Linked DNA regions of Homo sapiens. The protein of the gene in region 4 interacts with the protein of the main gene of each other region in a pairwise test. Each region holds a gene or a part of one and is shown on either strand. Other genes may lie near its edges. The genes, in order: ANAPC11, KIFC3, SAXO4, PRKAA2, ZMYND12, WFS1 and CCNB1IP1.

What was found.
Region 1: the proteins of PRKAA2 (region 4) and ANAPC11 interact in binary tests that used the Homo sapiens proteins (3 or more experiments, as listed by UniProt).
Region 2: the proteins of PRKAA2 (region 4) and KIFC3 interact in binary tests that used the Homo sapiens proteins (3 or more experiments, as listed by UniProt).
Region 3: the proteins of PRKAA2 (region 4) and SAXO4 interact in binary tests that used the Homo sapiens proteins (3 or more experiments, as listed by UniProt).
Region 5: the proteins of PRKAA2 (region 4) and ZMYND12 interact in binary tests that used the Homo sapiens proteins (3 or more experiments, as listed by UniProt).
Region 6: the proteins of PRKAA2 (region 4) and WFS1 interact in binary tests that used the Homo sapiens proteins (3 or more experiments, as listed by UniProt).
Region 7: the proteins of PRKAA2 (region 4) and CCNB1IP1 interact in binary tests that used the Homo sapiens proteins (3 or more experiments, as listed by UniProt).

What each region holds. Positions count from the first base shown.
Region 1 is NC_000017.11:81,894,723-81,897,738, reverse strand, and holds part of ANAPC11 (anaphase-promoting complex subunit 11), read right to left. Parts: intron 1-3,016. UniProt on the Homo sapiens protein: Together with the cullin protein ANAPC2, constitutes the catalytic component of the anaphase promoting complex/cyclosome (APC/C), a cell cycle-regulated E3 ubiquitin ligase that controls progression through mitosis and the G1 phase of the cell cycle.
Region 2 is NC_000016.10:57,795,992-57,799,491, forward strand, and holds part of KIFC3 (kinesin-like protein KIFC3), read right to left. Parts: intron 2,292-3,500; coding exon of another isoform or gene 2,253-2,291; coding exon 2,081-2,252; exon of another isoform or gene 1,714-2,080; intron 1-1,713. UniProt on the Homo sapiens protein: Minus-end microtubule-dependent motor protein. Involved in apically targeted transport. Required for zonula adherens maintenance.
Region 3 is NC_000011.10:61,487,620-61,491,119, reverse strand, and holds the end of SAXO4 (stabilizer of axonemal microtubules 4), read right to left. Parts: intron 1,339-3,500; coding exon 1,174-1,338; intron 620-1,173; coding exon 550-619; 3' UTR 536-549; intron 307-535; 3' UTR 192-306; downstream 1-191.
Region 4 is NC_000001.11:56,648,314-56,651,813, reverse strand, and holds part of PRKAA2 (5'-AMP-activated protein kinase catalytic subunit alpha-2), read right to left. Parts: intron 1-3,500. UniProt on the Homo sapiens protein: Catalytic subunit of AMP-activated protein kinase (AMPK), an energy sensor protein kinase that plays a key role in regulating cellular energy metabolism.
Region 5 is NC_000001.11:42,432,023-42,435,522, forward strand, and holds part of ZMYND12 (zinc finger MYND domain-containing protein 12), read right to left. Parts: intron 3,364-3,500; coding exon 3,252-3,363; intron 1,267-3,251; coding exon 1,121-1,266; intron 1-1,120. UniProt on the Homo sapiens protein: Required for sperm flagellum function and male fertility.
Region 6 is NC_000004.12:6,300,850-6,303,765, forward strand, and holds the end of WFS1 (wolframin), read left to right. Parts: coding exon 1-1,619; 3' UTR 1,620-2,416; downstream 2,417-2,916. UniProt on the Homo sapiens protein: Participates in the regulation of cellular Ca(2+) homeostasis, at least partly, by modulating the filling state of the endoplasmic reticulum Ca(2+) store.
Region 7 is NC_000014.9:20,326,780-20,330,279, forward strand, and holds part of CCNB1IP1 (E3 ubiquitin-protein ligase CCNB1IP1), read right to left. Parts: intron 2,595-3,500; 5' UTR 2,395-2,594; intron 15-2,394; 5' UTR 1-14. UniProt on the Homo sapiens protein: Ubiquitin E3 ligase that acts as a limiting factor for crossing-over during meiosis: required during zygonema to limit the colocalization of RNF212 with MutS-gamma-associated recombination sites and thereby establish early differentiation of crossover and non-crossover sites.

The DNA.
Region 1 (3,016 bases), on a different chromosome or scaffold from region 4:
GCCAAGGCAGGCAGATCCCTTGAGCCCAGGAGTTCAAGACTAGCCTTGGCAACATAGCAAAACCCTGTCTCTACAAAAAATAAAAAAATAAAAAATTAGCCAGGCATTGTGGAGCATGCCTGTGGTCCCAGCTACTTGAGAGGTGGAGGTGGGAGGATCACTTGAGCTGAGGAATTGAAGGCTACAGTGAGCTATGATTTTGCCACACTGCACTGCCGCCTGGGTGACAGCAAGACCCTGTCTCAAAAAAAAAAAATTGTACTAAGATTCAGTCATCTCAATTTCACCTTAAGAAGCAAAGACAGGGGCGGGTGCAGTGGCTCACACCTGTAATCCTGGTACTTTGGGAGGCCGAGGTGGACGGATCACCTGAGGTCAGGAGTTTTAAGACCAGCCCGGCCAACATGGTGAAACCCTGTCTCTGCTAAAAATACAACAAGGGCTGGGCGCAGTGGCTCATGCCTGTAATCCCAGCACTTTGGGAGGCTGAGGTGGGCGGATCACGAGGTCAAGAGATCGAGACCATCCTGGCCAACATGGTGAAACCCCATTTCTGTTAAAACTACAAAAATTAGCTGGGCATGGCGGCGAGCGCCTGTAGTCCCAGCTATTCGGAAAGCTGAGGCAGGAGAATCACTTGAACTAGGGAGGCGGAAGTTGCAGTGAGCCAAGATCGTGCCACTGCACTCCAGCCCTGGTGACAGAGTGAGACTCTGTCTCGAAAATAAATAAATAAATAAAAATAAAAATACAACAAATTAGCTGGCTGTGGTGGTGCATGCCTGTAATCCCAGCTACTTGGGAGGCTGAGGCCGGAGAATCCTTTGAACTCAGAAGGGTGGGGGTTGCGGTGAGCTGAGATGGTGCCATTGCACTCCAGTCTGAGCAACAGGGCAAGACTCTATCTCAAAAAAAAAAAAAAAAAAAAAAAAAAAAAAAAGCAAAGGAGGCAGATGAGTGTGGTGGTATGCTACTTGGGAGGCTGAGACAGTAGGATGGCTGGAGCCCAGGAGTTCACGTCCAGCTTGGGCAACACAGTGAGACCCTGTCAATCAATATGGGCATGCACCTGGCCCTACAAAAATACGCCTGGTTACTTGGGGTAGTGAGTAGCTTCTCGGTCCTCCCCATTCCCCACTGTCCTCTCCATTCCCCACTGTCCTCTGGGGAGTTCTTCTTGTCCTCCCTGGGCAAAACCTTGACCCTTGCTTCTGCTTTACGCTCATTTCGGTCTCATGAAAAACCATTTCGCTGATGCAAAACTCTGCTTTCAACCTAAACATAATCAAACATTTCCACTTTTTTTCTTTTTTTTTGAGATGGAGTTTCACTCTTGTTGCCCAGGCTGGAGTGCAATGGTGCGATCTTGGCTCACCACAACATCTGCCTCCCAGGTTCAAGCGATTCTTTTGCCTCAGCCTCCTGAGTAGCTGGGATTACAGGCATGCACCACCATGCCCGGCTACTTTTTTGTATTTTTAGTAGAGACGGGATTTTACCATGTTGGCCAGGCTGGTCTCAAACTCCTGACCTCAGGTGATCCATCCACCTCGGCCTCCCAAAGTGCTGGGATTACAGGCACCTGCCACCATGCCCGGCTAATTTTTTTGGATTTTTAGTAGAGTCGGGGTTTTGCCATGTTGGCCAGGCTGGTCTCGAACACCTGGCCTGAAGCAATCCGCCTGCCTTGGCCTCCCAAAGTGGTGGGATTACAGGTGTGAGCCACTGCGCCTGGCCTATGCCATTCAATTTTGAGAATTTTCAAATAAAAAGTTTAAACTAATCTTTTTTTTGTTTGTTTTTTGAGATGGAGTCTTGCTCTTGGCTCACTGCAACCCCCGTCTCCCAGGCTCAAGAGATTCTCCTGCCTCAGCCTCCCCAGTAGCTGGGATTACAGGCACACGCCACACACCCAGCTAATTTTTGTATTTTTAGTAGAGATGGCGTTTCACTATGTTGGCCAGGATGGTCTCAATCTCCTGACCTTGAGATCCATCCACTTCAGCCTCCCACAGTGCTGGGATGACAAGTGTGGGCCACCACACCCTGCCTTGATCTCTTGACCCTGTGATCTGCCTACCTTGGCCTCCCACAGTGCTAGGATGACAGGTGTGAGCCACCGTGCCGGCCTCCATCTCTTGACCTTGTGATCCGCCCGCCTCGGCCTCCCACAGTGCTGGAATAACAGGCGTGGGCCGCCATGCCGGCCTCCATCTCTTGACCTTGTGATCTGCCCGCCCAGACTCTAATCTCTTTTTAATCCCACGTATTTCACAGCTGAGTTTCATCCTATGGAGTCTGTGACAGGATCTTTATATAAACATGGGTACCAACCACCTGGCTTTTTTTCTATCAACTTTTCTTCATGAGATGAAAATGAAAATGTTGGGGGGGGCACGGTGGTTCGCGCCTGTAATCCCATCCCTTTGGGAGGCTGAGGCGGGTGGATCACCTGAGGTTGACAGTTCGAGACCAGCCTAACATGGAGAAAGCCTGTCTCTACTAAAAAATACAAAATTAGCCGGGTGTAGTGGCACATGCCTGTGATCCCAGGTACTTGGAAGGCTGAGGCAGGAGAATCGCTTGAGCCCAGGAGGCGGAGGTTGCAGTGAGCCGAGATCGCGCCATTGCACTCCAGCCTGGGCAACAAGAGTGAAACTCCATCTCAAAAAAAAAAAAAAAAAAAAAGAAAAGAAAGAAAGAAAAGAAAATAAAAATGTGGGCCAGGCAAAGTGGCTCACACCTGTAATCCCAGCACTTTGGAAGGCTGAAGCGGGCAGGTCACCTGAGGTCAGGAGTTCAAGGCCAGCCTAGCCAACAAGGCAAAACCCCGTCTCTACTAAAAATAAAAAAATTAGCCCAGCATGGTGGCACATGCCTGTAATCCCAGCTGCTTGGAAGGCTGAGGCAGGAGAACCGTTTGAACCCGGGAGGCAGAGGTTGCGGCAAGCCGAGATCGCGCCATTGCACTCCAGCCTGGGAAACAAGATCGAAACTCGGTCTCAAAAAAAAAAAA
Region 2 (3,500 bases), on a different chromosome or scaffold from region 4:
CAAGCAATTCTTATACCTCAGCCTCCCGAGTAGCTGGGATTACAGGTGCGCACCACCAGCCCAACTAATTTTTGTATTTTTAGCAGACACAGAGTTTCACCATGTTGGCCAGGCTGGTCTTGAACTCCTAACCTCAAGTGATCTGCCCGCCTTGGCCTCCCAAAGTGCTAGGATTACAGGCGTGAGCCACAGCACCCAGCCTTTACACACCTTCTTGGTCCTCAGTTTGCTTGTCAATAAAATGGGGACAACTTCACAGCCCTGTGATAAGGATCAAATGGGATGAAATACACGTGGTGCCCATGTAGTGCCAGGCACACAGAAAGGGCCCACAGTACAGGCCAATAGGACTACAGTAGCCATCAGCTCCTCAAAACTCCCCAGGGAGGTGGGGGGCATTCTCCCCACCTGACAGGCAAAGAACCGGAAGCCTGGAAGGGTTAACAATGTGCCCAGGGTCACAGGGAGCCAGGATTCAAATCCCATGTGCTAATCAACCCTCTGCCAGCCAATTCTCAGGGTGGCAATATGGGGGTTGGTCGGGGGACTCAGAGGGGCCTGGGGCAGCTGAGCTGGCTGAGGCCCAGTGGCAGGCACGGCGCTTGCATTTCACACACAGGATTTCATCTGACCTTTGTCTTAAATTTTTTAAGTGGATAAAAGTCTGTATGGTCATATAATCTTCATAATACCCAATTTTTTCCTTCAGGTTAGAAAGCTGAGATAACACAATATTTCAAAGACCTATATGCATGCACACACACACACAGACACACACGACTAGAAGGCACTACATAAAATGTTCAGTGACTAACTTGTGATTTTTATTTCCTTTTTGATATTTTTCTATGTGTTTTAAGTTTTCTAAGGGAAAATGCTTTTGTTTTACCGGAAAAGCAATACTCATTCATATTACATTTGTAATACTTAGGACAACCTTATGGGGTAGAGGCCATCCTCTGCCCCTTTCAGACAACTGGGCTACCTGGCCCAAAAGCCCAGGCTTTTCCCCAGGCCCCTGGGTCATCCCCAGCCTGGCTGTGCTGCTTGGGAGCAGCCAGCCCCAGACAACCATAGAAGCAGAGAGACCTCGGAAGGCATCAGTCCAGCTGCCACTGACAGCACAAATGTGGTGGGAGAGAGGGGTGAACAGGAGTTTGCTGTGTGCCCTCTCTGGGCCTCAGTTTCCCCTTCTGTGCACCAAGGGGCTTGGACCTGATGGCCCAGAGGGACTCTGCTAGCTCTCACAGGCTGGCAGTCTAGACCCTGTTCCTGTAGGTCACGAGGGACAGGGAGCAGACCCCTGAAGGCACCTTGCCTGGAGAGCCCTCTCTCCCCCACACTACCAGGGCGACCTGCCCACGCCTCGGGAGAGGGTCATGGACAGCTCCGCGGCCCCGCCAATCCAGTCCCGGCCCTGAATCAGAGAAGCCGCTCACTTCTTGACTTTCGCAGCACCGGGGGACATGACCCAGAAAGGCGAGCTGGCACTGACAGCTCCCCGGGGGGTACAGTGGGGGCCAAGACTCTGGGACCTCTGCCCACCTGCTGTCAGGGTCTCTACAGAAGCACCTGAAATGAGCACATGGACCCCAAGCCCCGCCAGGCCACGTTCCCGAGCAGCCTCGGTCCACTCCCAACGCCGTCCAGGGGCCAGCCCAGGCAGGATCAAGTGTCAGCGGCGCTTGGTGCCCAGGCAGCCACTTCACCTACCTTGTTTACCAGCCTGGGCAGAGACCGGAGCTAGCCCACACGCTCTTGGCCAAGGACGGCAGCCCGCAGAGCTCTGACCAGCTTGGCCAGAGGGAATGCAGCTGATTCCCCCTGCTCTGTGCCCGACCCGTGTTAAAGTTTAACCCGGCTTCCAGGTCTCCTCTTTTCCAGACAGGGGCGCAGGGAAGGAGCGCCCGGCGAGACTGACGCTCCGGCTCCACGCCCGCCTGGCTCTGGGCTGTCGGTTACCCTGTAATTACCTGACAGCTCTGACTGGGCTTAGGAACCGGTGAGAAACCTCAGTCTCATCTCTGGTATCTGGAGGAAGGAAGGGAAATAAAGAGGCATTTTAAAAATGCGGACTCACCAGTTCTCAACCTCCCCGGGCCGGTGTGTGGGAAAGGGCGGGCGGCCGGGCTGGCTGGGGCTGGGGCGGGGCGAGCCATCCCCGGCTCGGGCTCCGGGGCCCGGCCCACTCTCCACAGGCCCCGCAGCGAGGGCGTGGCTCCCAGGTTCCACGTCCTGCGAGAGGGGACCATGGCCTGGGGCTCAGCAGCCTCCTCGGGGCACCAGGCAGCCTGCGGAGAGAACAAGGGGAGATAAGCTTGAAGACCGTGGACCAGCACAACTGCACCTCGGGCAGAGCCAGCCATCTGGAAGGGTCTACGCCCCACCGGTCGCTGGTTACCCAGCGCAGCAGCTCCAACTGCACTGTCCCCCAAAGACCCTAGGGCTCGCAGGATGAAATGGGGCCTGCTGCCTTTTGGGGGTATTTGTTTCCGAATACGGAGGCTCCGAAGTGCGAAAGTTGCATATCAGCTGTGCCTGAGACCCCACACCTGAGCCCTTCCCAGCTGAGCCTGGAGCCTGAGGACAAGCCAGGTCCTAGCCCCACACAGAGGAGGCACCGCGAGTCAGCAGCATCTCCGTAAGTCTAATCCTTTTCCTCCAAGACATCTAATTTTCTAATTGCACTTAACCACATGCTTAACCCTTAGGCTTCAGGCTGCTCTGCCTAAGGCCTGTCAGCAGAGCAGTGAATGCTCTGAATATTAACATTTCACTGAGGAGGGACTCAAAAGGGCCCTGACTGTGGCCAATGACAAGTGAAGTCTATATACAGTAAGTTCTCATTCATGTATTCGACTAGCCTGCGCTCTGTGCCTAGCATGTGGCAGGCACCGTATGGGTGTTGAGATACAAAGATTCATTCAGTCTTCATTTAATAATGCCTACTGGGTGCCAGGCATCTGCCAGGGGTCCTTTTGGATCAGAAGAGATGAGGCCTGAAAACTCCCAGTCAGAAGGGAGATAAACACTTCAAAAAAACCCTCACAGTCTGAGCAGGCTACTGGAGGCGGCAGGTGCGAGCCAGGCACCAGGTGGTGTGGGGAATGGAGGGGGGCAGAGAGCATTGGTCAGGGATAGAAAGCTTCAGTCAGGGATAGGTCCCTCATGAACTGAACAAATGAACAGAGCTCAGGTATTCCCTGCAGAAGTCTTTATTGAGCACCTACTGTGTGCAAAGCAACCTTGAGGACATTTAAGGTGATCATGCTACAGTCCCAGACTCAGACAGTAATGTCATTTACAGAAGAAGCGAAGTCAGCTTGGAGAGGCAACATGGGGTTTTAAGATTGAGGTGGGGGTAACTGAAGGACTTCCTAGTGGAGCTTCCTGGGCTGTCGACTACTCTCCCCATCCGTCACTGCAGTGGCCACTTCCTGCCAGGAAGTGAAGATAGCTATTTGAAGGGTGTCCACCTCCCCTGACCCACTATGGGCCCA
Region 3 (3,500 bases), on a different chromosome or scaffold from region 4:
TAGAGGACCCCTTTACAGGACAAGAAACTGAGCGTGGAGAATGAAGTGCCTATCCATCGTGTCATGGTTCCTCAGAGGTTCCAGCCGAGCCCTTCCGACTCCAAATCTGGCCCTAGCTCCTCCACCCCTGCACCCACCGCCCCAGCTCACCCCTCCTTTTTCCAGCCACCCTGATAGTGATGTCACACTTCTCTGCTTCAATGCTCTTTATTTCATTAGGAAAGTAGCTGGGCAGGGGTGTTCCCCTGGGGGATGGAGTGGGGGTACAGACAGTAGCCTGGCTCCTGTCCCCTAGGATTGACAAACCTGTAGAGGAGAAGCAGAGGCGAGGCCTGAGCAAGGGGCTCTGGGGTGGTTCTGTGTGCTTGCCTGGCAGAGAAGGGGTTCTGAGAGGCCCCCTGATCTGTCACCCCCCACTTGGAAGGGGGGTCCCCAGGCAGGACTTGCTTAACCCAGGGCTTGAGAGGCAGGGCTGGCCCATAACGGTTGCCCACACAACCAGAGCAGCTGAGTGTGGGGATCCCCAGCCCCTTACCAAGGGCTCAGGGCTCAGCTGTGTGCCACGCAGCGGCTGCTGTGAGGTGTGTTCTGGTAGAAGGGGTCAGCTGAGGTCAGGGTTCTGCAGGGAGGCAAGAGGAGAGTGTTGGGGGTGTTGGCAGGCAGGGCATGGACCTTGTCTTCTTGTCTTCTGCCTGACCCTCCCTGAGAGAGCATAGCCAGGGTTCAGCCAGGGCAGCCAAGCCACAAACATTCTTTGCCTGCCAACTCTGGGCCATTGTTGATATAAATGTAATTTCTGAGGAATTGAATTGAGCAGAAAGGAGCTGAGTGAGGCCGAACCACAGTCCATTCATCTCTGGATCCGTCCCCGCATCCCCCTCTGGATCTGAACCACCCCAGAGCCCCTTGCTCAGATCCTCCCCATCCAGTCCACCGGGCCTGGGGAACAGGGGCAGGAGAGGGAGGAGGAGCCATCTGAGGGAGGGGTCACTGGAAGGAGAGGAGGGGAGGAGCCTGTGCTAGCAGGAGAAGGGACACCAGAGCCAGCCAGAGGAGATGGGCCTCTCATAGGAATGAACCGGACTGACAGCAAGAGAGGAGAGGAAGGGAAAGGCCTGGCACACGGCCTGGATGAGGGGTAGGGAGAAAGAACAGAGCTGGGGGTGGTGCCACCTTCCCACGTGGGGATGCAGGTGCCGCAGGCTCTCCATGGGGTTGGGGGTGGCCTCCATGCAGCTGACCGGCTGGCTGAGGGCGTAGCCTCCTGGCATCTGGGGCTGGATGCCACCTCGAGTCCAGCCTTCCTGGTCTAGACCCTTGGGGATGTTCTCAAAGTACCTGGAGGAGAGGAGGGGTCCTTGGCTGGAAGCTGGACTCTGCCCACCTCTGCAACCCCTGCTGCCCTTCTCCATCGACCCTCAGATCGCCCAGCCTCCCCACCTTTGCTCATGCTGTCCTCGTCTAGCTCTCCCTAAGCCCACGTCCACTGGGGGAACTCTTACTCAAAAAGCCTGCCCTCCCCTCCACCTGACGCTGAAACACTCTTTGGAGTGTTAAAGGACAGTTTCAGTGATGCCCCTGTCCCTGGCCTGCCAGTACCTTGGGGTGGGGACCCCGTCTCATCCACTTCTCTAGGCACTTAACTTTCCTTCCATTTCATTTCCATTTCCTTCCATTTCACTGAGCACAGCCAGGTCCAGAGGGTGCAAAGACAAGTAAGAAGGGGGTCCCACCCTTGAACTTATGAAGAGGGGGTGCAGACAGATCAATGCAGGAATCAGTGATGACAATCCCGGGGCTCTGCGCGCACCAGGAAGCACCAGCAAGCGTGCCTGACAGCCAGCAGGAGCTCAGGACACAACAGGACACGACAGGCTGGAAGGACCCAGCAGACAGGACTGGAGCTGGTCTCTGCCAGAGCCACAGGAGGAGGTGTTTGCCTAAGAAGGGGTCAGAACATCGTTGCCCCTCCCCCACCTCCGTGGGAACTGGAGCGGCCACTGTGCTGAGTCTGCTGTGCGGGCGGAAGCTCTGCTCCTCCCCTCTGAGCCTCAGGGTTTAGGCCAGAGGACAACAAACGGCCCTTCCAGCTCAGACTCTCTGTTGCTCCTCCAGGACACCGCCCTCCCCTCTTTTCAGTCTCAGTTCAAACGTCACCTGCTCAAGGCCACCGATTTCAAATCCGACCCGTGCGCACTGCAGCCCTCGCGATCCCTTTCTCTTTGCGCATTACCTAACAGCTCTCGCTAACTGGCTGCAGCCACATGCATGTCTCCTCCCATGCAGAGGTCTGAGCTCCGTAGGGCAGGAGCTGCACACACATTCCCAGGGCCTGGAGCAGGGCTTGGCACCCAGTCAGGGCTCAGTTAAAGTCTATTCCATGAATGGATTCTGGGAGGTATCCCGGAGCAGGGGGTGGGGCAGGGGGAGGAGACAGAGAGGTGGCAGGGACACCTTGAAGGACCAGGAGTTGGAGAGGAAGCAGGGTGGACACAGGTGACTGATGTTGTGAGGAAAGCTTGCGCTTCCTGGCTCGGAGTTTGTCCTAAGAATTATACTTCCTGGAGGCGGGCAGATCACGAGGTCAGGAGATCAAGACCATCCTGGCTAACACAGTGAAACCCTGTCTCTACTAAAAATACAAAAATGTAGCCGGGCGTGGTGGCAGGCGCCTGTAGTCCCAGCTACTCGGGAGGCTGAGGCAGGAGAATGGCGTGAACCCGGGAGGCGGGGTTTGCAGTGAGCCGAGATCGCACCACTGCACTCCAGCCTGGACGACAGAGAGAGACTCCATCTTAAAAAAAAAAAAAAAAAAAAAGGAATTGTACTTCTTGGCAGGACACGGTGGCTCATGCCTGTTATCCCAGCACTTTGGGAGGCCAAAGCAGGCAGATCACTTGAGGTCAGGAGTTCAAGACCAGCCGGGCCAACATGGCGAAACCCCATCTCTACTAAAAATACAAAAATTAGCTGGGCATGGTGGCACATGCCTGTAATCCCAGCTATTTAGGAGGGTGAGACAGGAGGATCACTTGAACCCATGAGGCGAAGGTTGCGGTGAGCTGAGATCACGCCATTGCACTCCAGCCTGGGCGACAGAGTGAAACTCCATCTCAAAAAAAAAAAAAAAAGAAGAAGAAGAATTACACTTCCTTTATACCACTCCTATAATGCTTTCCCCACCCAGTCCTGGCCCCAGGAGGCTTCCCCATGGCTCTGGGGCCACCTCCTTCCTGGAAGCCCTCCCTGATGCCCAGGACAGTCACTCCTAACCCAGGGAATGCACAGCACAGAATTTACCTTCTGAGGGAGCATCGAGCCCACCAACCATTGGCTGGATGGAATGTCTTAGCAGATGCTGCTGCTCCAGACTCCCTCGCACTGCCCTGTTCTTTCCATGCCCACCAGCCTGGCCACCAATGCCCTGCATCTCTGTGGGAAAGCTACCCTTGGGATGCTAGAAGCTGCTTTGCCTGAGCAAGGAGGCACCTGGGCTTTAA
Region 4 (3,500 bases):
ACTAGTATTTCTAATAAACATGGGTTAAAACTGGTAGAATTCAGCACATTTTATAATAAGAAATGAAAGATTGAGGCATCCAAGTAAATGTTGGAAAAGTAAAAATATAAATTTTAATCATCTATATATGGCATTTCAAAAAACGTTATTTATCTCTAAATATGGACTGAAAGACATTTAAATCTTATTTTCTCAATTCTGATAAATATGAGCAGACATAGAAAATTATATCCTTGTAGGTTTGAAACTCAGAACATACTAGGCATTTTGACTTTACAGTCCATAGAGCAGAGACTTTGCAGTCTGAGAACCCTGAATTTGATTGCTAGCTCTACCACTTAATAGCACTGGAACTTTGGACAAGTTACTTAAAGTATCTGATTCTCAATTTCTTCATTTGTTAAATGGAGATAATACCAAACTTAGAGGATTACTCTGGGAATAAAAAAAAATCAAGTGCATATATCATACAGTGATTAGAATATAGTAACAACTTAATCAAATTGTACCTTTTATCACTGAAGTATTGAAAATATGTTTCCTTTTCCCCTGTTCTACATTACATCTACATTTCAGACTCAGGAACTCAAATTTTCATTAACCAGGATGAATAATTAAATATACCCATTTTTTTGGAGTTAAATCTTTTAAAAATCGGTTTAATGATAGCATTGTAAAGGACCTCACAGATTCGCTACTCCAGTGTTATCCTTTAGGAGGGGAAGAAAACAAGGCCCAGGGAGTTAAATTGTTCAGGGCTTCCACACTAGCACACAAGTCAAGCAAGGGACCAAAATACCACAGACATAACTTTTAGCTCCATCAATTGATGGGACAGTTGTGTGAAATTTGATTTATCATTTAGGACTTGATATTTACATTTCAAAATAAGGTAACACTTTTTGTTTGTTTGTTTAAGTTTTGGTTTATCCTTCCTGTTATCTCAAAAACAAGTGGGGAATTAGTAAAATATTTACTTAATTTATTGAAAGCAGTCTGTAGGCCAGTCATGTAACTATTTGAAAAATGGAAAGGGTAACTTCTTCGTGAGACTTTGCCGACAAGAAAGAACCTAAGTATCCCTTGGTGTACAATTCCAATGAAGAATATTTATTTCATAAACCACATATGGGTAAACATATTTCTGGAGTAAAATGTTGAAAAAAATTTGTTTAAATCATAAACCACATATATACTACTACTCATCTTGAAAATGCAGGCTTCTTTTTAAATAAATAATTAGCACTATAATTTTGTTTCTTCAATCAGTCTTTATATAACACAAACAACAGGACCATTCTTCTAGAATTTCTATCACCTTTAGAGAAGTTAGATAAGAAATGAACAAGTCTAATTACAAGAACTCTCTAACAGTTTTACCCTACCCAGAGTGAGAGCCTAAACAGTCAATATAGAGAAAAATTTTAAATAGATAAAAAGCATTACTTTTAAACTCTGTCAGCCCATATAATCTGTTTCCAAAAACAGTCCCTCAGCAACCTGATAATACAATAGACTAATGAAGGACAAAATTTAAAACATTTTAAATAAGGCTTTATTAACAAATACAAAGATTTCCATATACTTTTAAAAAACAAATTAAAACTACTGCTGTTAAAACTATTCCATTTTCAATTTTTGCTTTTTGTCCCTAACTTTGGTCCATAAATTGATATATCAACAACTGAAGTTAAAATTTCTTTATTTCTTTTTTTTTTTAAGACGGAGTCTCGCTCTGTCACCCAGGCTGGAGTGCAGTGGCACAATCTCGGCCCACTGCAACTTCCGCCTCCCGGGTCCAAGTGATTCTCCTGCCTCAGCTTCCCAAGTAGCTGGGATTACAGGCGCGCACCATCACAGCTGGCTAATTTTTGTATTTTTAGTAGAGATGAGGTTTCACCATGTTAGCCAGGTTGTTCTCAAACTCCTGACCTCAAGTGATCCACCTACCTCGGCCTCCCAAAGTGCTGGGATTACAGGCGTGAGCCGCCGTGCCTGGCCTAAAATTTCTAAATCTATAATTAGCATAACAGTCAAAGTTGGGCATGGTGGGACACATTTGTAATCCCAACACTGTGAGGCTGAGGCAGATAGACTGCTTAAGGCCACAAGTTTGAGAACAGCCTGGTCAACATAGTCCCTAAAAAAAACTAATTAATAAACAAATAAGAAAAAGGAAAAAAGTCAAGAGAGAAAGCACATAAAATGTTCCTTACTTCTCCATTTCCATGTTTTTATAACCATTTATCTAACTATCTATCTATCTATCTATCTTTCTATCAATCAATCAATCAATCAAAGACAGGGTCTCCCTATGCTGCCCAGGCTGGTCTTGAACCCCTGGGCTCAAGGGATCCTCCTGCCTTGGTCACCCAAAGTGCTAGGATTACAGGCATGGACCACCACACCTGGCCAAGCTTTTAAAATTACATCATCTCCTATTAGCTTTTTTAGTAGAAATTCATTTTGCAATGTCTAAAATCTACAACAATTAAAAATGCACCTGCATTCAACAAAAACTGCTGAGACAATTGGTTATCCACATGGAAAAAGTTAACCTTACAACCTCATCTCACACCATACATAAGAATTAACTCAAAATAGATCACATAGTTAAACATCAGGGCTAAAATAATAAAATATTTACAAGAAAACATAAAAGAAAATCTTTGAGACTTGGGCTAGGCAAAGATTTCTTGCCTATGACATCAAGAGCATAGTCCATAAAATAATTTTAAAAACTAATAAATTGGACCTCATGAAAATTCAAAACTTTTATACTTCAAAAGACACAAGAAAATGAAAAGACACAACAGACTGGAAGAAAATATTTGCAAAATATATCCATTAAAGGATCTGTATCCACAATTTACAAAGAATCCTCACAACTCAACTTATAAGATGACAAGTAACCCAATTAGAAAATAAGCAAGAGATATAAACAGACATTCCATCAATGAAAATACATAAATGACTAGTAATTACGTGAGACAATGTTCAACATCATTAGTCCTTAGGGAAACGCAAAATTAATGCCTCAATGAGATACTATTTCGCACCCACTAGAATGGCTATAATAAATCAGGCAGACAATAACAAATGTTGGCAAAGATACTCAGAAAAGGGAACTTTCATACATCTTTGATGGGAATGTTATAAAATGGTGTGACCATTTTGGGAAAGTGTTGCAGTTTCTCAAAAAGTAAAACATAAAACTACGATATGACCCAGCAATTCTACTTCTAGTTATTTACCCAAGGTGTATGAAAACATATGTCCACACAAAGACTTACATGTGAATATTCGTAGTGCCATTATTTATAATAGCCCAAAACTTGAAACCATGACCATCAACTGGTTTTGTATAGACAAAATGTGGCATATCCACACAATGGAATATTATTCAACTATAAAAAGGAACAAATTAATGGCACATGCTATGTCATGCATGAATCTCAAAAGCATTGTTAAAGAAGCTCGACACAAAAGATGACATATTG
Region 5 (3,500 bases), about 14 Mb from region 4:
TTTTTCTTCTTCTTCTTCTTCTTTTCTTTTTCTTTTTCTTTTTTTTTTTTTTGAGACAGGATCTTGCTCTGTCACCCAGGCTAGAGTGCAGAGGCACAAGCACGGCTCACTGCAGCCTCAATCTCCTGGGCTCAAGTAATCCTCTTATCTCAGCCTCCCGAGTGGCTGGGACTACATGTGCACACCTCTAGCCCGGCTGATCTTTTTATTTTTATTTTTAGTAGAGAGTGGGTCTCATTATGTTGCCCAGGCTGGTCTTGAACTCCGGGACATAAGCAATCATCCCTCCTCAGCCTCCCAAAGTACTGGGAATACAGTCATGAGACACTGTGCCTGGCTAGTTTTCTTTATAACAGTTTCTACTATCTGAAATTATATTACACATACATATGTTTATTTCCACTCCTCCAAAAAACACCAGTGCCATAGAGATAGGAAACGTATGGATCACCACTGTATCCCCAGTCCCTAGATTAGTGCTTTACAAATGGTAGATTTTCAATAAATGTTTGAATGAATGAGAGAATCAACCAATAAGTCAATAAACCTGAGATATGCTACTTGCTGTCTGTAAGACATTGGGCAAAGAATTGACCCTCTCGGTGCCTCAGTTTCCTTGTTTGTAAAGTAGAGATAATAAAATAGCTACCTCATTAATGTTGGTGTAAGCATTAAGTATGATAATTATGTAAAGGGTTTAGGCCAATAACTGGTAGGTAAAAGTACTCAAAAAGTTACTTTTTGAATCATTTCATGGCAATGCATTTCTGCCTGAATCCCCGCAGCAACAGGGAACTCAGTAACTGAGTGGAGTTAGAGCGGCTACTTCATCCATCCAAGGCTCCCCAGAGCCTTCCTGCCCTGCAGGCTTCCCAGCACTGCCTCAGACTCTCTTTATCTATGCAAGACTGGGAACCCTCGGGGGAAGAAGACAATCCAATTTCCATTATGCAGGCTAGACTCAACACAGGAGAAACATCGTGAGCATCTGAACCTCTTTGGAGTGAGGGCTTGCTCTGAGGGCAAAAGCTATTGGAATTGGGCAAAACACAAATTTTGAGTTCAACTAGTTGAATTTCTACCTTCATTTTAGACGTGTTGCTTTTTTAGGGAAACTTGCCTTTGAAGAATTCATCATCAGGTAGTAAAACATGACCAGGATCTTCAGAACAAAGATGGTTTTTTGGGGGGCTTTGTCAGATGTAGATTCTCGAATGTTCAAGATTGAAGTCAGGATGCGAATGGCTTCTGCTTCTTGGGCTTCATCTGCATTGGAAGGGGAAGAAAGAAAAAACAGGCTCTTGGCAACTGAGTCTGCCCTCATCAAAAGCACTCAGCTGTTAAAGCGCCTGGTCTGCTGAAGCCTTCCCAAGGGCACTGGTGGAAATAGCACCAATTACAGCAAGTTTTTTACCTAGAGGACTCCCTCCAGGTGCAAAGCAGGAAGCTCCGAAGCAGGAGTTTCAGACCGCTTTCCAGCTTTGCTTAGCATGCCATTATCAGAGTAGCCTAAAAATAGGCTCACTCCCACAGGTCCCAAAGTTGCTAAGGTTTCTCTCTTTCGGAGTCCTGAACTCTAGATCTCTTGGGCTTACAAACACAGATAATCTGCCACAGGCAGATTCCTTGGGTCCAACTCAGATTCCACTCTACAGCTGAGAGGAGAGAACTGGGGGAAGGGACTTCTTGCAGCTGCAGCAGCTTAACTCTTCTCGTCTAGGCCATAGATGCGTAAGCAACAACCTTCATGCTTCCCTCTGAGAGTCTGTTTACTATTTTCCCCAGTAGTTTTTGGTCCTACTTTAGTCATCATTTACTGAGAAGTCACTACATGCATTTAAAAGCACTTATACAAGTACTAAGCTTAGAGAAAAAGACGAAAAGGATATACACCATCATGTTAAGGTTGGCTATCTTTGGATATCTATGATTTCCAAGTTTTCAGCTATAACATGAACTATTTACATAATGAGAGAAAATTCAATAAAGTTATTAATTTTTTAAACTTTAGCTCAAAACCTCTCCTCCAAAGAGTCTTCCTTCTTCAACACCACCCAGCTGTCCTCACCTCTTCATTCTGGGACTCATCTTGTAACATAATTTGTACTCACAGGAATGTTCTTTTGTTATTGCCTATAGGTTCTATATCACCAACTGCACTGTATGTCTCTTTTGAGCAGAAACTAGATCCTCTGTGTCTTTTCATTGTCTCTGAGGGCATGATGCTGTACGGTACTATTCAACACTTAGCCCTTTGCTGGCCCGGGGAATACAGTTTAATCCAACTGGGCCCTGCCACTGAGAAGCTCACTGTTCAGTAAAGCATGAAGTTAAGGCACCAGAAGAAATCAGCAATGCACCTTCTGTGTAGAGTCTACCTTGGCTTACGTGTCCTGGAGCAAGAGTCCCCAACCCCCAGGCCATGGACCAGAACTGTTTTGTGGCCTGTTAGGAATCGGGCTGCACAGCAGGTGGTGAGCAGGGGTGGTAGGGGCGAGTAAAGCTTCATCTGTATTTACAGCCACTCCCCATTGCTTGCATTACCACCTGAGCTCCACCTCCTGTCAGTTCAGCAGCAGCATCAGATTCTCTTAGGAGCGTGAACCCTATTGTGAACTGTGCATGCAAAGGATCTAGGATGTACACTCCTTATGAGAATCTAATGCCTGATGATCTGTCACTGTCACCCATCACTCCCAGATGGGACCATCTAGTTGCAGGAAAACAAGCTCAGGGCTCCCACTGATTCTACATTATGATGCATGGTATAATTATTTCATTATATATTACAATATATTAATAATAATAAAAACATAGTACACAATAAATGTAATGCACTTGAATTCTCCTGAAACCATTCCTCCCACGCCCCCCAGTCCATGGAAAAATTGTCTTCCATGAAACGGGTCCCTGGTGCCAGGGAGAGATTGGGACTGCTGCCCTGGAGGGATAACATAGAAATGGATGCTCTGCAGAAATCACAGGGGGCTTTGATGTGGTCTTTTTTTCCCTCTAAATCTGTCCCTTAGTAACCCCCGAATGGCTATGTGTGATGATAGGGATCTGAATTCTTCCCAACACTGGTAAAATCTCTTTGATCCCCGTGTCTCAGTTTTCTCCATCAGCAACATGGGGAAGGTGGCAATGGTGTGCTTCATGACAGGGACAGCTGCTTTCCCTCTTAGGGACAAGGTCTGTGTATTGGGTGAGATGAAGTCACTGCTCTCCCTTCAGGGAAAACTGCCACTTACCCAAGCCAGTGTCATTCTCAAATAGTTTGCCCAGTAAATCCATTTGTTGGATGTGAGCCTGTGAGAGGACTTGATAGTGATTGTTCAAATATGCATGCCAGATCTCAGAGACCTGTTGGGAAAAGAGATGGTAATACAACAAGCAGGCCAGACCTCAGCCGTCGGACCAGGCAGGTGAGGAGAGTAGCGCATTTGGCCGGGCTTCTGGACAACCTGGAGGTTCTCTCTCTTACTGTGCCTGGAGGCAGA
Region 6 (2,916 bases), on a different chromosome or scaffold from region 4:
TGTCCTTCATCTCCATGGTGATCTGCACCCTCAAGGTGTTCCAGGACAGCAAGGCCTGGGAGAACTTCCGCACCCTCACCGACCTGCTGCTGCGCTTCGAGCCCAACCTGGATGTGGAGCAGGCCGAGGTCAACTTCGGCTGGAACCACCTGGAGCCCTATGCCCATTTCCTGCTCTCTGTCTTCTTCGTCATCTTCTCCTTCCCCATCGCCAGCAAGGACTGCATCCCCTGCTCGGAGCTGGCTGTCATCACCGGCTTCTTTACCGTGACCAGCTACCTGAGCCTGAGCACCCATGCAGAGCCCTACACGCGCAGGGCCCTGGCCACCGAGGTCACCGCCGGCCTGCTATCGCTGCTGCCCTCCATGCCCTTGAATTGGCCCTACCTGAAGGTCCTTGGCCAGACCTTCATCACCGTGCCTGTCGGCCACCTGGTCGTCCTCAACGTCAGCGTCCCGTGCCTGCTCTATGTCTACCTGCTCTATCTCTTCTTCCGCATGGCACAGCTGAGGAATTTCAAGGGCACCTACTGCTACCTTGTGCCCTACCTGGTGTGCTTCATGTGGTGTGAGCTCTCCGTGGTCATCCTGCTGGAGTCCACCGGCCTGGGGCTGCTCCGCGCCTCCATCGGCTACTTCCTCTTCCTCTTTGCCCTCCCCATCCTGGTGGCCGGCCTGGCCCTGGTGGGCGTGCTGCAGTTCGCCCGGTGGTTCACGTCTCTGGAGCTCACCAAGATCGCAGTCACCGTGGCGGTCTGTAGTGTGCCCCTGCTGTTGCGCTGGTGGACCAAGGCCAGCTTCTCTGTGGTGGGGATGGTGAAGTCCCTGACGCGGAGCTCCATGGTCAAGCTCATCCTGGTGTGGCTCACGGCCATCGTGCTGTTCTGCTGGTTCTATGTGTACCGCTCAGAGGGCATGAAGGTCTACAACTCCACACTGACCTGGCAGCAGTATGGTGCGCTGTGCGGGCCACGCGCCTGGAAGGAGACCAACATGGCGCGCACCCAGATCCTCTGCAGCCACCTGGAGGGCCACAGGGTCACGTGGACCGGCCGCTTCAAGTACGTCCGCGTGACTGACATCGACAACAGCGCCGAGTCTGCCATCAACATGCTCCCGTTCTTCATCGGCGACTGGATGCGCTGCCTCTACGGCGAGGCCTACCCTGCCTGCAGCCCTGGCAACACCTCCACGGCCGAGGAGGAGCTCTGTCGCCTTAAGCTGCTGGCCAAGCACCCCTGCCACATCAAGAAGTTCGACCGCTACAAGTTTGAGATTACCGTGGGCATGCCATTCAGCAGCGGCGCTGACGGCTCGCGCAGCCGCGAGGAGGACGACGTCACCAAGGACATCGTGCTGCGGGCCAGCAGCGAGTTCAAGAGCGTGCTGCTCAGCCTGCGCCAGGGCAGCCTCATCGAGTTCAGCACCATCCTGGAGGGCCGCCTGGGCAGCAAGTGGCCTGTCTTCGAGCTCAAGGCCATCAGCTGCCTCAACTGCATGGCCCAGCTCTCACCCACCAGGCGGCACGTGAAGATCGAGCACGACTGGCGCAGCACCGTGCATGGCGCCGTGAAGTTCGCCTTCGACTTCTTTTTCTTCCCATTCCTGTCGGCGGCCTGAGGATGGTCCGCCACGAGGAGCTTCCAGTGCATGTTGCCATGAGGCCTTTCCCCAGTGTGGCCCCAGCCCGACAGGCATGCACCAGTGCCGCCTGTGCCCACGTGTGCAGACTGTGGCTGCAGAGACCTTGCGACCATGTGTAGATTGCGTGGACCCCGACAAAGGGAAGGCTGCTGTGTAGCTCTGTCCACTCTGAATACCAAGTGTGTTGGGAATTGCATGCCATCTCCACCCTGAGCCTGACCTTTCTGAGTGACATGGGTGTGCCAGGCTAGACTAGGAGGTTCCGGTGTCTGGAAAAGCACTTTACAGATGAGATTCCCTCTCCTCCCCCACCTTCAAGCACCCTGTTCCCTCTTTCTTTCTTTTGTGTTGGATTTGTTTAAAAACCAAATAAGCATCTGTGTAACCTCCACAGTAGCATTTCTTATTTGTTTGGTCACTGCTACACCTTAGCAGCTCTTCCCCTTTCCTGGGGGATGTGCACGGCAGCTTGAGCCTGTCACGTGGTCAAGGCCCGGCCCCATCAGAGGCTGGGGGAGGCGGCACATTGGCAGTGTGTCACACTGAGCTGGGCACCACAGGCTGCCTCATGACCCTCCTGTCCAGCAGGTAGTGGGTGAATGTGTGAAGGTCTTGCCTGAATCCATCAGGACTTGGGAAACAGAGAACCCTGTGGGGGCGGCTGTGGGGGAGGTCCCTGCCAGTGTTTAGAAGAGCCTGACTGTGTTCAGTGCCTTGGAGCAGAAAGCCAGGGTCCTGAGTGGCTGAAATAAAAGCCTCTGGTGGAACCTGCAGCGCTTTCCTTCCTTTCTTTACCGAAAAGAAGTCTTTCTTGTACGTGCGTGAGAATCAGCAGAGCCTGCACTCCTGTTGAATGAAATGCAAGTGCAATTTGAGTTATAAAAGAGCAAGGTTGATGTTTCACAGTTGATGGCTTCCTGCCACAGCGAGACCCTGGCTTCATCTCCAGCTGGAGGGGCCCCTGGGGCATCTGCCGTAACTGTGGGGTGGCCTGGGCATGGGCTGCCTGTGCAGAGAGACCTGTGCTGAAGGTGACCATGGAGTGTCAGCCCAGCCATCTTCAGATCTTACTGAGCGGAAAGTGCACGGTCATAATTATCTTTGAATTCCAGTTACCCATGAAGTGGAGCCTACAGGGTGATTGATGGCGTGGGGGCTGCTGTCCATGCGGGAGTGTGTTGTGAAACCACCTCCTGTGTTCCCTAACCTGCAGTGATGACCCCATGGGATTATAATCAGAACTTAGTCATTTGGGGGCACCCGAGCAGCTGCA
Region 7 (3,500 bases), on a different chromosome or scaffold from region 4:
ATCTAGGATCATTTCTGGAAAATTTAAAAAACATAAATAAATTCACAAAGGTTATGATTACATGACAACTCACACCAGCATGTTCTATACCAAGTCACAAGAAAATTTAGAGTAACCGTTCATCCTTTATTTAACTCTCCATTCATTAATATAAATTATTGACTCATCTATTTGGAGAATGTCACCAAATGCCCAAGCTCAATATCAAATAGGGCAGGATCAGGAGTTCAAGGTTACAGTGAGCTGTGATCGTGCCACTGTACTCCAGCCTAGGCAACAGAGTAAGACCCCGTCTCGAACAAAACAAAAAAAATTTAACAACAACAACAAAAAAAAACCGAGCAGGACCCCTACACAAGCTTAATTTTGTATAAATTTACAAGCTTGGATAAAACTGCACAATAGTCTAACCAACTTCTGAAAGGCTATAAAGGTCAACAACCTCACAGTAAGAAAACAGTTATGCAAGAGGAAGGAGTCAAGAACTTTTAAGATTCAGATAACTGAGAAAATAATCCAAAATAGTCAGTTTTTTCAAAGCATGTTTCAATTTCATTTGAGCCAATGCCGGATTGTATTTAACCTTTACTCTTCGTAATCCTTTGTCAAAATAATCTGAAGAAAATCTTCCCTTTATATAGGAAAATTGAATTAGTAACATTTGTAACCCAAGTCTGCCACAAGATGGCAGTGTAAGAAAGAGTCTTGCTTTAATTTCCTCTTCCAGCATTTGCGTGTCATCTGAACTTTCAGGTCAAATACATACTAGATACGCAGTTCATCTTTGCAGGCAACCTTCACACTATTCCCTACTCTTCACCTAATTACTAGCTAGAAAATTTTTTGTATTTACTTGTAATGATCATCTAAAACTTGTTAGCTAAAAATACTGCAGTTATACTTTCATCATTATGTTCTTTTTCATGCAGCAGTGTGGAGATTTAAAAATCCATAACCTCAGATACAATCTAGCCAGAAAGACAAGACTCACAGAAATTAACATACCACCAAATAAGTAGTAGAAAGCAAGTAAGGTTAAGAAAAGAAGTAGGATTGGTCAAGGAAGGCTTCATGAAGCAAAAAGAGTGGGTCACAAGTGGACCTTAAAGTTGCATGTCCAATAAGTAACCACTTAATTAGAGTTAAAAATTAAATTTCTCCCATTACCCTAGTCACATTTTCATTACTCAATAGCTAAATTGGCAGTACAAACATAGAGCATTTCCATCATAACAGAAGGCTCCATTGGACATCAGTGCCTTTAAGAATGGGTCTAAAATAAGCTGACAGAAAAGAAAGCAGTGGCTATCATTCTTTAGAAATCCTATCTGTCAAGCTGTATAGAATTTGTATCATTTAAATTTTACAACCCCCTATTTACAGGAAAATTGAGGCTCAGAAAAATTACATAAATTTCCTAAGGTCACCTAACTAGTAAGAGCTAGGATTTAAATTCAATTCCATCAAAACTCCATACTCTTCAATTCACCATGGTACTTCCTACAGGAAATACACAGAGCTAAAGGTTTGCTTTAAAATGTAATGCAGTGACATGCTAGCTCAGTAGGTTGGAAAGAAACTGAAGCATTTTAAATATCTCAGACAGATATGATCAAAATGTTATTTTACTCCTTCCTTGCCCTATACTTAGCTTTAACTATGTAAAATGTTTTCAGATCAGCAGGATGCAAGGTTAACTAAGAGAATGTAGACAAGAAGCAAGACATGGTGTGAAAGGTTTCTCCAGTTTTAACAATGTCTACCTTAAAACTCCTTGATCTCTCCAAACCTAAAATAAATTTTTTTAAAAAGGAAATTAAAAAAAAAACTACTTGATCTAAGTATTCTTACAGGATAATAATTATAGGTTGAAAGGAACAACTTCTCTATTAATCTCAACTCACAAACAAAACCCAGATTGCAAGAGGCCTGGTCTTTTTGTTTTGACACATAGCACAAAGCCTGGCACATAAATCCTGATGTTAAATATGTGATACCTTTCCCAATGTGTGATGCTTCCCTGCAGGATTCTAGTCATGCATGCTTCAACAAGTGTCATTCCACCATACAAAGGACATTTCGTATTTACTAAGTATTGTGCAAATGCTCCATAAACAATCAATGATCCCAGCATTTTGTTGACTGTGGGCAGTAATCACTTCAAAGTACTAGTGTTCATAGCCAAAAGGTACATTTTATATGTGTGAACAGATGCTTCATGAAGGCCTAATACAAACTACAAATTGATACTAAATCAGCAGATACTCGTGTTAAGATTTCATCACCATTCCTTTTGACTCTATTCCAATTTACTCAGTGCCACCTAGCATTATAGGATACAATGGTAACTCGAATCTCTAAGCTAGGCTTTTTAGATAGGAAAGACACACATACGTGTAATGAAGAGAACTTAAGGCAGCTTATCTTGATCAAAATTCAAGTACCAGGCTTTAGGTACCATCAGCCTTTAACCCTTTCTGTTGAGAATATCCAAATCCAAGCCCATATGATTTTCAGGGGGTCTACAGATGGGCCAGTTCTGGACTGGCACACAGGGTGCTGGACTTCCCTCCTCAGTGGATTTCATCTTCAACCTGAAACAAAATGAACACACAAAATTTTGTTCATAGGAAGTAAATACTAGACTAATAGCTTGGTATAGTTTTCCTTTAGAGATAGTTATATAAGGTACTGCTATCAGAACAGACTCCAAGTTTTATTTCCCACTCACTATCAGTTTCCTTCCTTTTTAAGGCAGAATAGTATTCCACTGTACATATGTATAATATTTGCTTTATCCATTCATCCGTTGATGGACCCTTAGGTCAATTCCGTATCTTGGCTTTTGTGAATAATGATGCAATGAACATGGGAGTATAGGTATCTCTGACATACTAGTTTTATTTCCTTTGAATATACCCAGAAATGGGATTTCTGGATTATATGGTAGTTCTATTTTTAATTTTTTGAGAAATTTCCATACTGTTTTCCATCATAGCTGCACTAATTAATATTCCCTAAAATAATAGATTTTGAAATCATACTAAACTAGATTTTAATCCTGGCTCTCTCATGTATTTGCTGTGCCCATGGGTAAGTTATGCAACTTCTCTAAACTTCAGCTGTCCCCTCTGTAAAATGAGGACAAATACTACATACCTCTTAAAACTTCCGTGAAGACTGAGGTAATAAATACATTTTGCACTGTAGCTGGCATGGAGTTAAATGTTTAATATGTTATTTCTATGTCTTGCCCAAGCTCAACCAGCTAGTGAGTAGAAAGGCAAATATTCTGCCTAAAAATTTCACACTTTTCCACAGCCATAAAAAAAAAAAAAACAAAAAACATGTCCTTTGCAGCAACTGGAGCTGCTGGATGCTGCTGGGGGCCATTATCCTAAACGAATTTATGCAAAAACAGAAAACCAAGTATTGCATGTTCTCACTTATAAGTGGGAGCTAAATCTTGCGTTGGGAGCTAAATCTTGCGTAGGGAGCTA